Linked DNA regions of Homo sapiens. The protein of the gene in region 1 purifies or fractionates together with the protein of each later gene. This does not show direct contact. Each region holds a gene or a part of one and is shown on either strand. Other genes may lie near its edges. The genes, in order: NTAN1, PLAA and MAP4K5.

Region 1 (3,655 bases):
GATCTCAGTTCACTGCAATCTCCACCTCCCAGGTTCAAGCGATTCTCGTGCCTCAGCCTCCCCAGTAGCTGGGATTACAGGTGTGCGCCACCATGCCCAGCTTTTCGTATTTTTAGTAGAAACTGGGTTTCGCCATGTTGGCCACACTGGTATCAAACTCCTGGCCTCAAGTGATCCACCTGCCTTGGCCTCCCAAGGTGCTGGGATTATAGCATGAGCCACCATGCCCAGCCCCCTGTGTAATTTGTAATGGCAAAAAGCTGGGAGCAGCAATGGAAAAGGTAAGTAAATTGGGCACAGAACCAAGTCACAGCCACTAACTGCACAGTCATGAGAAATGAAAACTATGGGAAAAAGAGTTTTGAAATGCTAATTGAAAAGCAAGATACAAAAGTATAAAAAATGTTTTAAAGAGCTATAAATGTGCCATAATACAACAATGATTAAATGCTTATACCCATAGAGAAAAATACTGGAAGGAAATTTCACCAGTACAACCATGGCTGTGCCAAAAAAGCAAACATGAGTGATTTCCTGTTGCTGTTGTCCTCTCTTCTCTCAATGTTCTATCACATAGTTATTGTTAGAATACAAAAACAAAATGGATAAGGCAAATTTACGAAAGGTATGTTAATACTAAGTGTCAATAATCTGAGTGTTTGTACACACTTATTTAGTAAGCTTGTAAAAAAAATTCAGTGGTTAAAAATTCAGTGGTTATTTAACAAAAACTTTTTCAAAATATTAAATTGATACAACACTACAATGTATCATAATTTCCTTCTTACTTGCAACAAACTCCTGGATGAACAAAATCTTCCTCAAATGTCTAGACAACGTATGTATGTATTGCCTACACAGGAAGACAGTTTTGCAGTCTTAGTCTTCTATCAGCTTCTTGCCATTTCGCATGACTGGTGCTAATTTAGGTTAGCGCTCACTTAATAAAACATAAGAGCAGCTGGGTGTGATGGCTCCCAACTGTAATTCCAGCACTTTGGGAGGCTGAGGAGGGAGGACTGCTTGAGCCTAAGAGTTCAAAACCAGCCTGGGCAACAAGGAAGATCCTGTCTCTACAAAAATTACAAAAATTAGCTGGGTGTGGTGGCATGTGCCTGTAGTCCCAGCTACTCTGGAGGCTCAGGTAGGAGGATCACTTGCAGCCAGGAGGTGGAGGCTGCAGCGAGCCATGATTGCACCACTGCACTCCAGCCTGGGTGACAGACCAAGACCCTGCCTCAAAAAAAAAAAAATTAAGATTAAACTAAAAGAAGAGATGTAATAAACATAATGATCAGCTTGATTACTTACATGGTGTTTTCTTCTGTTTATAAACTTCCATTAACTGGAAGCAAGGTATCAATGAAAATGAGACAAGCCCCTTAATTTAAGAAACAAACTAAAGATTAAATGAACTGCAGTGTAAAATTAGATGGGCAAGACAGCCTTGCTTGCTCCAGAAGTCAGTGAGAAACAGGTGTGACTGCTCTAAAACTCAGAACACCTGTACAGGTGACAGCCTCTCATTTTCTCATTCCACTTCTTGCCTCATCTTAGTTCAGAATAACAGGGGAGAATTCAGAATTCCCTCTTGATTACTCCTGAGATACTTACCTTCTGCTTTGTTCTTTGAGGGAAGGGAAGAGAAGGGAGGGCGCAAAGGCGAATTTTTAACACTCATGTTCACAATTGGGTCACCACTCAAAAGCAAAGCTATTTGTGAGAAATTAATTACTGCTTTCACAAAGACCAAAAATCATGTCTCTCTTCAACACAGCTCCTACGATTTCCCAAAGAAATAAAAGCAAAAATTATCAGAAGAGAGAATGCCAGAAAACTAAAACAGTAGACTGCTTTGCTCTATTTTTTAATTTCTTTTTTTAAACAGGGTCTTACTGTCTCCCAGGCTGGAGTGCAGCGGCGAGATCGTGGCTCACTGCAGCCTCTGGCCTCAAGCAATCCTCCCACCTCAGCCTCCCAAGGAGCTGGGAACTACAGGCATGAGCCGACACACCTGGCTAGTTTTTGTACTGTTTGTAGAGATGGGGTCTCCCTGTGTTGCCCAGGCTGGTCTCGAACTCCTGGCCTCAGGTGATCCTCCTGCTTCAGCCTCCTTTGCAGTAGCTGGAACCACAGGCGCACGCCACCACACTTGTGCTAGGATTATAGGCATGAGCCACTGTGCCCAGCCTCTACTTTATTTTTAATTTTTTTTTTTTTTTTTTTAGAGACAAGGCCTCACTCTGTTGCCCAGGCTGAAGTGCTGTGGCCAGATCATAGCTCACTGCAACCTCAAACTCCTGGGCTCAAGCAATCCTCCCACCTCAGCCTCCTTTGCAGTAGCTGGAACCACAGGCGCACGCCACCACACTTGGCTAATTTTTGCTCTTTTAAGTAGTAAAAAGAGTTTAGCCAAACTTCCCTTCTTTGGAAAACCACACAGTCCTACTTTATAAATTCATATGCAAGTAGTCCCAGTTTTCTTAACCTCTAATATGCTCTAGACACTAATATTTGCTTAAAAAAAAAAAAGCTTTTCCCTCAGTCCCTCATCCCTATTTCCCAGTTCCTATTCAATGGCAGTATTCTCTTAACCCAGTGACCAGCAGATTTTCTGAAAAAGGCCAGACAGTAAATATTTGGGGTTCTACAAGGCCGCAGTCTCTGTCACAATTGCTCAACTCTGCTGTTATTATGAAGTGAAAGCAGCCATAGACAATACAGATGTGGCTGTGTTCCAATAAAACTTTATTTATAGGTGACACCGAAGTTTTAATTTCAATACCATTTCCCATGTTACAAAATATTATTTTGATTTTTCTCAACCTTTGAGAAATATAAAGACCATTCTTGGCCTATAGGCTATACATAAGCAGGGTCCGGCCCATGAGCTGTGGCTTGTTGACCTGTGTCTTAGCCAATCACCTAGCTGTGACCTGGGGGATGATCATGTGACCCTCACCCCTGCTGTCCTGTTTATCAATTCTTCCTTTATAAACAGGAGAGGGGCATGAAGGTGATCTGTGAACTGTAAAGCACAATGCTATATAAGAAATTATGAGGCCCAACACACTGGCTCACGCCTGTAATCCCAGCACTTTGGAGGCCGAGGCGAGATGATCGCTTGAGGTCAGGAGTTTCAGACCAGCCTGGCCAACATGTTGAAGCCCCATCTCTACTAAAAATACAAAAATTAGCCGGGCATGGTGGCAGATGTCTGATACTCAGGAGGCTGTGGCAGGAGAATCACTTGAACCTGGGAGGCAGAGGTTGTAGTGAGCCAAGATCGTGCCATTGCACTCCAGCCTGGGTGACAGAGCAAGGCTCTGTCTCTCAAAAAAAAAATAAATAAATAAATAATAAAAGCAGGAACTAAGCTACGCTGCGAGCATCTTGTAGACTCTGTGGAACCGTATTACCCAAGATGTTGCAGGACTGGTTACCGAGTACCCAGTGACTGGTTAAGAGTGACTAAGGGAGGGCTCTAAACAGCTCTGGCCAAAGGAACTTCATGCTGGGATGGCCACCGTCTATATTCACACTGTCTCATTAGTAGCCATGCTGTCTGCTCGGCACTTGAAATGTGGCTACTGCAACTGAGGAACTGAGTTTCAATTTTATCTAATTTTAATTGATTTTTAAGTTAAATCCTAAG
Region 2 (3,655 bases), on another chromosome or scaffold:
CTAGGTACAATAAAATACTTACCAGGTTCATTAAGATGTTCCCTCCCAGGAAGCTGCTCAGCATTGATGTCCCCTAAATCGCCAGTTTTAGAATCAATGGTTGCGTGAGACAGTTCTTTTTCAAAAGCCTTGATTTCTTCAGCACTTGCTGTTCGATCTTCTGATTCTGTAAACACTCTAATAATGCCATCACTGTAAGGAAAAATAAACTGATTTTAGAAGTCATTGCCATAATACATTAACATTATCACACCTGAATGATCCATAGTAAAAATAATCTGTGTTTGTGAATATGAGAAATATTAGCATGTTATTAATTGCTGATTACAGCACTGTGCTGACTTCAGCACATGCTACTCTATTATGTCAACTATTTAATAGAGAAGTTATTGACAAAGAACAGAGAAACATGTATTTTATACAATTTCCAAGTTAAATATTTACCATCATAAGAATCTAGAGCTATAGTATGTACTTTTAAAGTCAATATTTTTTAGTTATTACCATATAGAGAAGGGTAGTGGGCTAGTTTAGTTTATAAAGGGCTCAAAGACCCAATGTAGGGCTTAAAATTAGCAGATGTTCAGTAGACAAATATGGTCATCCTTTACTATGCCAGTAACTAGCAATGTAACTTCAATCAAGGAAAAAAAATGGCCTAATGTTTGGATTAGATGGCCGTCCTTAACCTCTTTTCTCAGAAAAATTACTTTATCTCCATGATTTCTTAATTCGAAATTCTGAGATAGGAGAAGCAAATTAGACACTTCCAACTGTATTAATCCTGGCCCATTCTACAGGAAACCTGTTTCTAACTTATTCGTCCACAAACATGTACATCACTCGTTCTATTGGTTTTTCTTCATATGCTTAGGAGGGAAAAAAACTAAGCCTATAAATCAGCCTCTGTCCCAGCCAAAAAATAAAACACCCACTTTATTAGACCCTCTATCCCTTATAGCTGTCACCTTCTTTTTCTTCTCTTTTTCTTTGAGACAGGGTCCAACTCTGTCACCTAGGCTGGAGTGCAGGGGCGGCAATCACAGCTCACTGCAACCTCAAATTCCCGGGCCCAAGCAATCCTCCCACCTCAGTCTCCTGAGCAGCTGGGACTACAAATGCATGCCACCATGCCCAGCTAATTAAATATTTTTTTTGTATGGAGACAGGGTCTCGGTAGCTCACCCAGGATAGTCTCGAACTCCTGAGCTCAAGCGATCCTCCCACCTGGACCTACCAAAGTGCTGGGATTACAAGTGTGAGCCACAGCAGCTGGCCTTCTTATTGCTTTCAATGCTAGAGTAGCATTATAGAGTAGTCTATGATCCTTCGTCCATCTCCTCCAACCCTTTATTTCCTCTTATTTGCCTTTTTTTCTATCATTTTCTATTCAAAATGTGATTGATGCCAAAAGTCACTAATAACATCTTTCAAACCAAATCCAAATGCTTTTCAAACTTTCCATTCTTTGACTCCTCAAACACTTTTGACACTGATGACAATCTCCCTCCAAAATCTCTCCTTTTCTGTCTCCCAGAAATTTCAACATTTGAATTCCTTTGTTCTGTTTAACCTACTAACTTCTTTTTCTCTACTAATGGTATATCATAAAACTTAGTTCTTAGTCTTCTGTTCCTCCCCTGTATTTCTTCCCTCAGAGAATGGTGTTCTATGCTTTGCTTTTGGAAGCTTTGCGAAATCTTTATCTTAGCCTCAGTTCTTATACTAAGCTCCAGTTCAAATGACCATGATCCACTGGCATGAGTGTGGCTCACCACCACTGCAGACCTCAGGAAGTCTAAGGCCACGGTCATCACCTTCTGTACCCAACCAATTCTCCCACTTCTCCATTTTTATTAATGAAGATTTCCAATCACTAACAGTTTGAAGCTTTATCCTTTTCTTTCATACTTTTTCTGATTGTTTTCCTTCTGGATTATCTCATTTACTTATTTCCTACCCATTAGCATTGTGGGGCCAATGTCTTATAACTTCACACTCCTTCTGTACTTGCTTTCTAATTTACTTTCCTGTCCATTGTCACCAGCAGTTAAATCCAATCTACATATTTAGTAATTCATAAGTTCTGCTTCAATCCTATTTCTTGCTCAAGAACTACAACCCTTCAACCCCAGGCAATGAATCTAAAAAATGCCTGGCATGAAAGCACTAAAGGTTCTCCACAGTTAAGCCCCATTGTACCTATTATCTCAGCATTAGTACTCCACCATTTTCCTTCACTTCCTATGCATGCTGCATTCATTCTCATGAAGGAAACTTATACTCTTAGCTTTGACAAAAATTTGCGTATCTTTTCTCACTCATAATCTTTCAAAATCCAGTTCAAATTTCTTCTTCTACAGAAAGTTTTCCCACACCAATCTCTACCTTCTCTAACTTCTTTTGTAGTCAATATCTTGACTGCACAATTGCAGTACAATACTGGTATATCATGCATCATTGACTGCACAATTGCAGTACAATACTGGTATATCATGCATCCCTTAGTATGAAAGCTATAATATCTACTACTGTTTTGTTTAGTAATTGAAGTGTCCATATAGTCTCCTCAAGTCACGTGAAATTCCTTATGGCTTATCTCTGTACACTCTAGTTCCTACTGAAGGCCTAGACATATAACATTTAATGATTGACTAGAATATAAATACCTCGCACCAACCACAATGTCACCATTGTCGAGCACACAGCAGCACCATATAGACTGAGCTGGAAGTCGGATAGTTTGAGCACATTCCCCATGTTTCCAGATTCTCAGAGATCTGTCCTCTGCTGTTGTCACAAAGTCTAAAATTAATGAATATAGGAAGTATTAGTTTGAATAAAATTAAGTACATTTATACATACCATCTTTCTAGATACACTGACTTTTTGAAACCCAGAGACTTTCAAAATTACAGTTTTAAATTTCATATGTTTGTCACTTACAACATATACAACTTCAAAATCACATTTTTTATTCATGTCACATCTTACAAAGTGTTTCTTCAGATACCCAAGAACTTTTTACAGCACAACATAAATCTGAATTAATATAAAGATGGCCATACAATTTTCTTCTTTGTAAACAGGAGAAAGATACTTAATGAAATAAATTTACTAAATTATTCAAGTCATAGATAGTAAATTAAGTAATCAGCTCTCCTCCCTCCATCTCACAAATGGGATGGAATAATGCTCAATACAAAACATTAAATAAATAGCATAAAATAATCTTACCTCTACAATTTGGAAAAACGGATATGCTATAAATATAATTTGTATGTCCATAATATACTTCAAGACACTCGCCAGTGATTTGCCACCTTCTAATACTAGCATCATTTGCACAGGAAAGAAATTCTGTTTCACTCAAAATTGCCAAACCTCTTACACAGTCTTCATGCCCTGCATTAAAAAACAATAATGCAAATCAATAAAACTGATAATTTGGCTGATGGCTCTATACATTTTACTAACATTATAAAACATATCAGTGAGTAGTAAAAATTAATTTTCAAGTTAGAGAAATCTTTTTTTTTGTTGAAAGCCTGATAACCAAAATTTGTATTTAAGGTTTAGCAATATTTTTTTATCACCAGTCTTCAGAAGTTATTTTACATTCATCCTACCTTCTCCAAAAACCTCCAGAAATAGT
Region 3 (3,429 bases), on another chromosome or scaffold:
CTTAAGCAACAAAATAATTTTTTTATTTTTATTTTTATTTTTTTAGATGGAGTTTTGCTCTTGTCGCCCAGGCTGGAGTGCAATGGCGTGATCTCGGCACACTGCAACCTCCGCAACCTGGGTTCAAGTGATTCTCCTGCCTCAGCCTCCCGAGTAGCTGGGATTAAAGGCATGCACCATCAAGCCCAGCTTATTTTTTTTGTATTTTTAGCAGGGACAGGGTTTCTGCATGTTGGTCAGGCTGGTTTCGAACTCCTGGCCTCAGGTGATCCACCTGCGTCGGCCTCCTGAAGTTCTGGGATTACAGGCATGAGTCACCGCGCCCGGCAACAAAATAAATTTTTAACCACTTGTAAAGATAAAACAAAAACTCTGTTTAGATATGTATCTTAAAAACAAGGAGATGCCCATGTAAGAGACAAGCAGAGCAAGGCAACAGTCTGAAGGAAGTAGTTTTTCAGAGCAAATAGTGATAGAGTGGACAGAGAATACGAACAGGGAAGGGAAAAGTGATGCACAAAGCTCTGAGCAGAGTAGGTAGAAGGAAACAAGCAACCCAGAGAAACGGCCTCTGATGCCAACCCTCTACCAAGCTGAATTCTCTCACACTTGGTTTCATTAAAGGATTATCTACACCAGGATCAATGGATGATCCACAATTCTTTTTTTTTTTTTTTTAGACAGAGTCTTGCTCTGTCGCCCAGGCTGAAGTGCAGTGGTGCGATCTTGGCTCACTGCAACCTCCGCCTCCTGGGTTCAAGCAATTCTCCTGCTTCAACCTTCCGAGTAGCTGGGATTACAGGGACACGCCACCATACCTGGCTACTTTTTCTATTTTTAGTAGAGACAGCTGATTCACCTGCCTCGGCCTCCCAAAGTGCTGGAATTACAGGCATCAGCCACTGTGCCCGGCCCACAGTTCTTTTCTCAGCCCTTCCTGGAGAAGCAAAGAGCCTCTCATTTTAGTTCTAGAGTCATTTACCAGATGATCCTCAAATTCTCTTTTTGTTGGTTGGACGACTTACTAAGTTGCCATGCTTTGTGGGCTTACCTTTTCTATTCACTAAGGTAGTCATCACTTTTTGAAAATTCCTGTTCTCCTATAAAACTCTCTTCAAAATTTTTATGGAGTTATAACTCCATTTCCCCCTCCTTCCTCAAGTATCTAAAACTTAAGCAATGTGAACCTGAAGACCAGAGGTTCCCAATCCTTGTCTCAGGACTAATGCATACCACTATAGCCAATTTTGCTTTAGTAACAACTTTTGGTGGGAAAAGAGGAAGGAATGGGTATTTTATTAGCTATAGAAGTAGACAGTTGAGCGACAGAGTGAGACCGTCTTAAAAAAAAAAAGAAAAAAAGAAGTAGGCAGTAGATTTTGGAAATCAAAAGCTACAGCTACTACATTTTTTTCATAAGATGACAGTTTTGCAACTTGTCTTTTATTTGGGGTAAAAAGAGACCATATAATTCTTTTTAACTTAGATTAACTTTAGAAACTGAACCAGGCATTTTCTAATATAAAAGCAAATATCATCAAGAGGTACATATTCCTAATAGTTAATGGAAGGCAGCACACCATGAAGAAATGAAGACAAACGGGCCCGAAATAGCTCTCATAGTACTAGGGACATCAACATCTATATCAACACATTTTGTCTCAGTTGAATATAACTGTCTCTAGAATAACAATCCTCACACTGACAAAAGGTTGCTTAGTTAACTTATTAAAATATTACTAATTCTCTCAGTAAAGACACAGAGAAATGTATCTAAGTCAATGAGCTTCTAAGAGTTTTGTTTGAAACAATTACAGACTGACAGTATAATTAAGAGTATGATCTTTGAACTCCTTTGGTAATTAAATTAATACAACCAAACTATTACCTGTCTGATCCTAATAAGCGGAAAACTCTTGTTTCATCTGAAATCTCCTGGGTAACCTAGGAAAGAAAAATACCTATCAGTAACATCTTACTCCCCATATTGCCTTAATAACAATTTAAAATTAATTTAGAGCAATTATTAACACAATAAATATTTTTTGGTAGACTTAATTCCTCAAATAAAAGAAATTTTAGTAAGTTTTTTGATTGCATATTATTAGAAATGAACCCACATTTATGGAACATCTAGTATGGGTCAGGTACTCTACTTAGAAGAACTCTTTGTGATATGCATTATAATTCTCATATCATTGAAGAAGAAACTAAGACTCCAAGAGGTTAAATAAGTTGTTCAATCTCATAGAATGGGTAGACTCAAGACTTGAATACAGGTTTGTTGGACTGCAGAGCTCCTTTGGGGGCCAAGGCTTGAGGTCAGGAGTTGAGACCAGCCTGGGCAACAAAGTGAGACCCTGTATCTACAGAAGTATTTAAAAATTTTACCTGGGCACAGTGGTGCATGCCTGTAGTCCTAGCTGCTCAGAAGGCTGAAGTAGGAGGATCGCTTGAGCCCAGGAGTTCAAGGATACAGTGAACTATGATTGCACCACTGCATTCCAGCTTGGGCAACAGAGCAAGACCCTGTATACTCTGTTTTCTACAAAGCTGCAGAGGGTGCTCAGCCATGTGCAGGTACTATGCCAAAGTGCCCGCAGTTTGTATACCTGGGGGCAGGCCTTAACCAACATGGGATAGCAGTTGCTGCATAAATGCTCAAGCCTCGTCATCTACAAATGAGTCAATTCTGAGGTGTATTTTACCCCATTCCTCAGTGGTCCCTACTGGATTAAGCCCCAGTTGCTCTTAGTGGGAACTAGCTTATTAATGTGTTCTTTATTGGCTTTTTGCCCCTCTTTATTCTCCATTCCTCATTCCATCACTTGTCTTCTGGAATCTATTCCCAAATACACTATCTGTATTTGAGTCCTTGTCTTAGGGTCTACTTTTAGAGGAACCCACACTAAGATATTGTAGATATAAAGTAAGTTAAAAAAAAAAAAAAGTCTGGTATCAAGGAGTTTGCAGTCTACCTGGGAAAATAGAATTAATAAGCTTGAATCAGAAAATAAATTAGGTGTTATACTAGTTGGAGCTGATTTTTCAGAGTATTAAGTTCAGAGATGTTCTAATCATTGTGCCTGGAATGACTGAGTATTACTTTATGAAAGAGGTCAAGACTTTAGCTAGGCCCAAGTTGAAGGATGAGAACATAAACTGAAAAAAAGGTAATCAAGACGAATTAAAAATAGGCCGGGTGTGGGGCTCACATCTGTAATCCCGGCACTTTGGGAGGCCAAGGCAGGTGGATCACGTGAGGTCAGAAGTTCGAGACCAGCCTGGCCAACACGGTGAAATCCCATCTCTACTAAAAATACAAAAATTAGCTGGGTGTGTTGGTGCATGCCTGTAATCCCAGCTACTCAGGAGGCCGAGGCAGGAGAATCGCTTGAACCCAGGAGGTGGAGGTTGCAGTGAGCTGAG

The links.
Region 2: the proteins of NTAN1 (region 1) and PLAA fractionate together in Homo sapiens (co-fractionation; one large-scale study listed by BioGRID). This does not show direct contact.
Region 3: the proteins of NTAN1 (region 1) and MAP4K5 fractionate together in Homo sapiens (co-fractionation; one large-scale study listed by BioGRID). This does not show direct contact.

What each region holds. Positions count from the first base shown.
Region 1 is NC_000016.10:15,049,492-15,053,146, forward strand, and holds part of NTAN1 (protein N-terminal asparagine amidohydrolase), read right to left. Parts: intron 1-3,655. UniProt on the Homo sapiens protein: N-terminal asparagine deamidase that mediates deamidation of N-terminal asparagine residues to aspartate. Required for the ubiquitin-dependent turnover of intracellular proteins that initiate with Met-Asn.
Region 2 is NC_000009.12:26,923,156-26,926,810, forward strand, and holds part of PLAA (phospholipase A-2-activating protein), read right to left. Parts: intron 3,406-3,655; coding exon 3,238-3,405; intron 2,806-3,237; coding exon 2,670-2,805; intron 193-2,669; coding exon 23-192; intron 1-22. UniProt on the Homo sapiens protein: Plays a role in protein ubiquitination, sorting and degradation through its association with VCP. Involved in ubiquitin-mediated membrane proteins trafficking to late endosomes in an ESCRT-dependent manner, and hence plays a role in synaptic vesicle recycling.
Region 3 is NC_000014.9:50,421,233-50,424,661, forward strand, and holds part of MAP4K5 (mitogen-activated protein kinase kinase kinase kinase 5), read right to left. Parts: intron 1,945-3,429; coding exon 1,889-1,944; intron 1-1,888. UniProt on the Homo sapiens protein: May play a role in the response to environmental stress. Appears to act upstream of the JUN N-terminal pathway.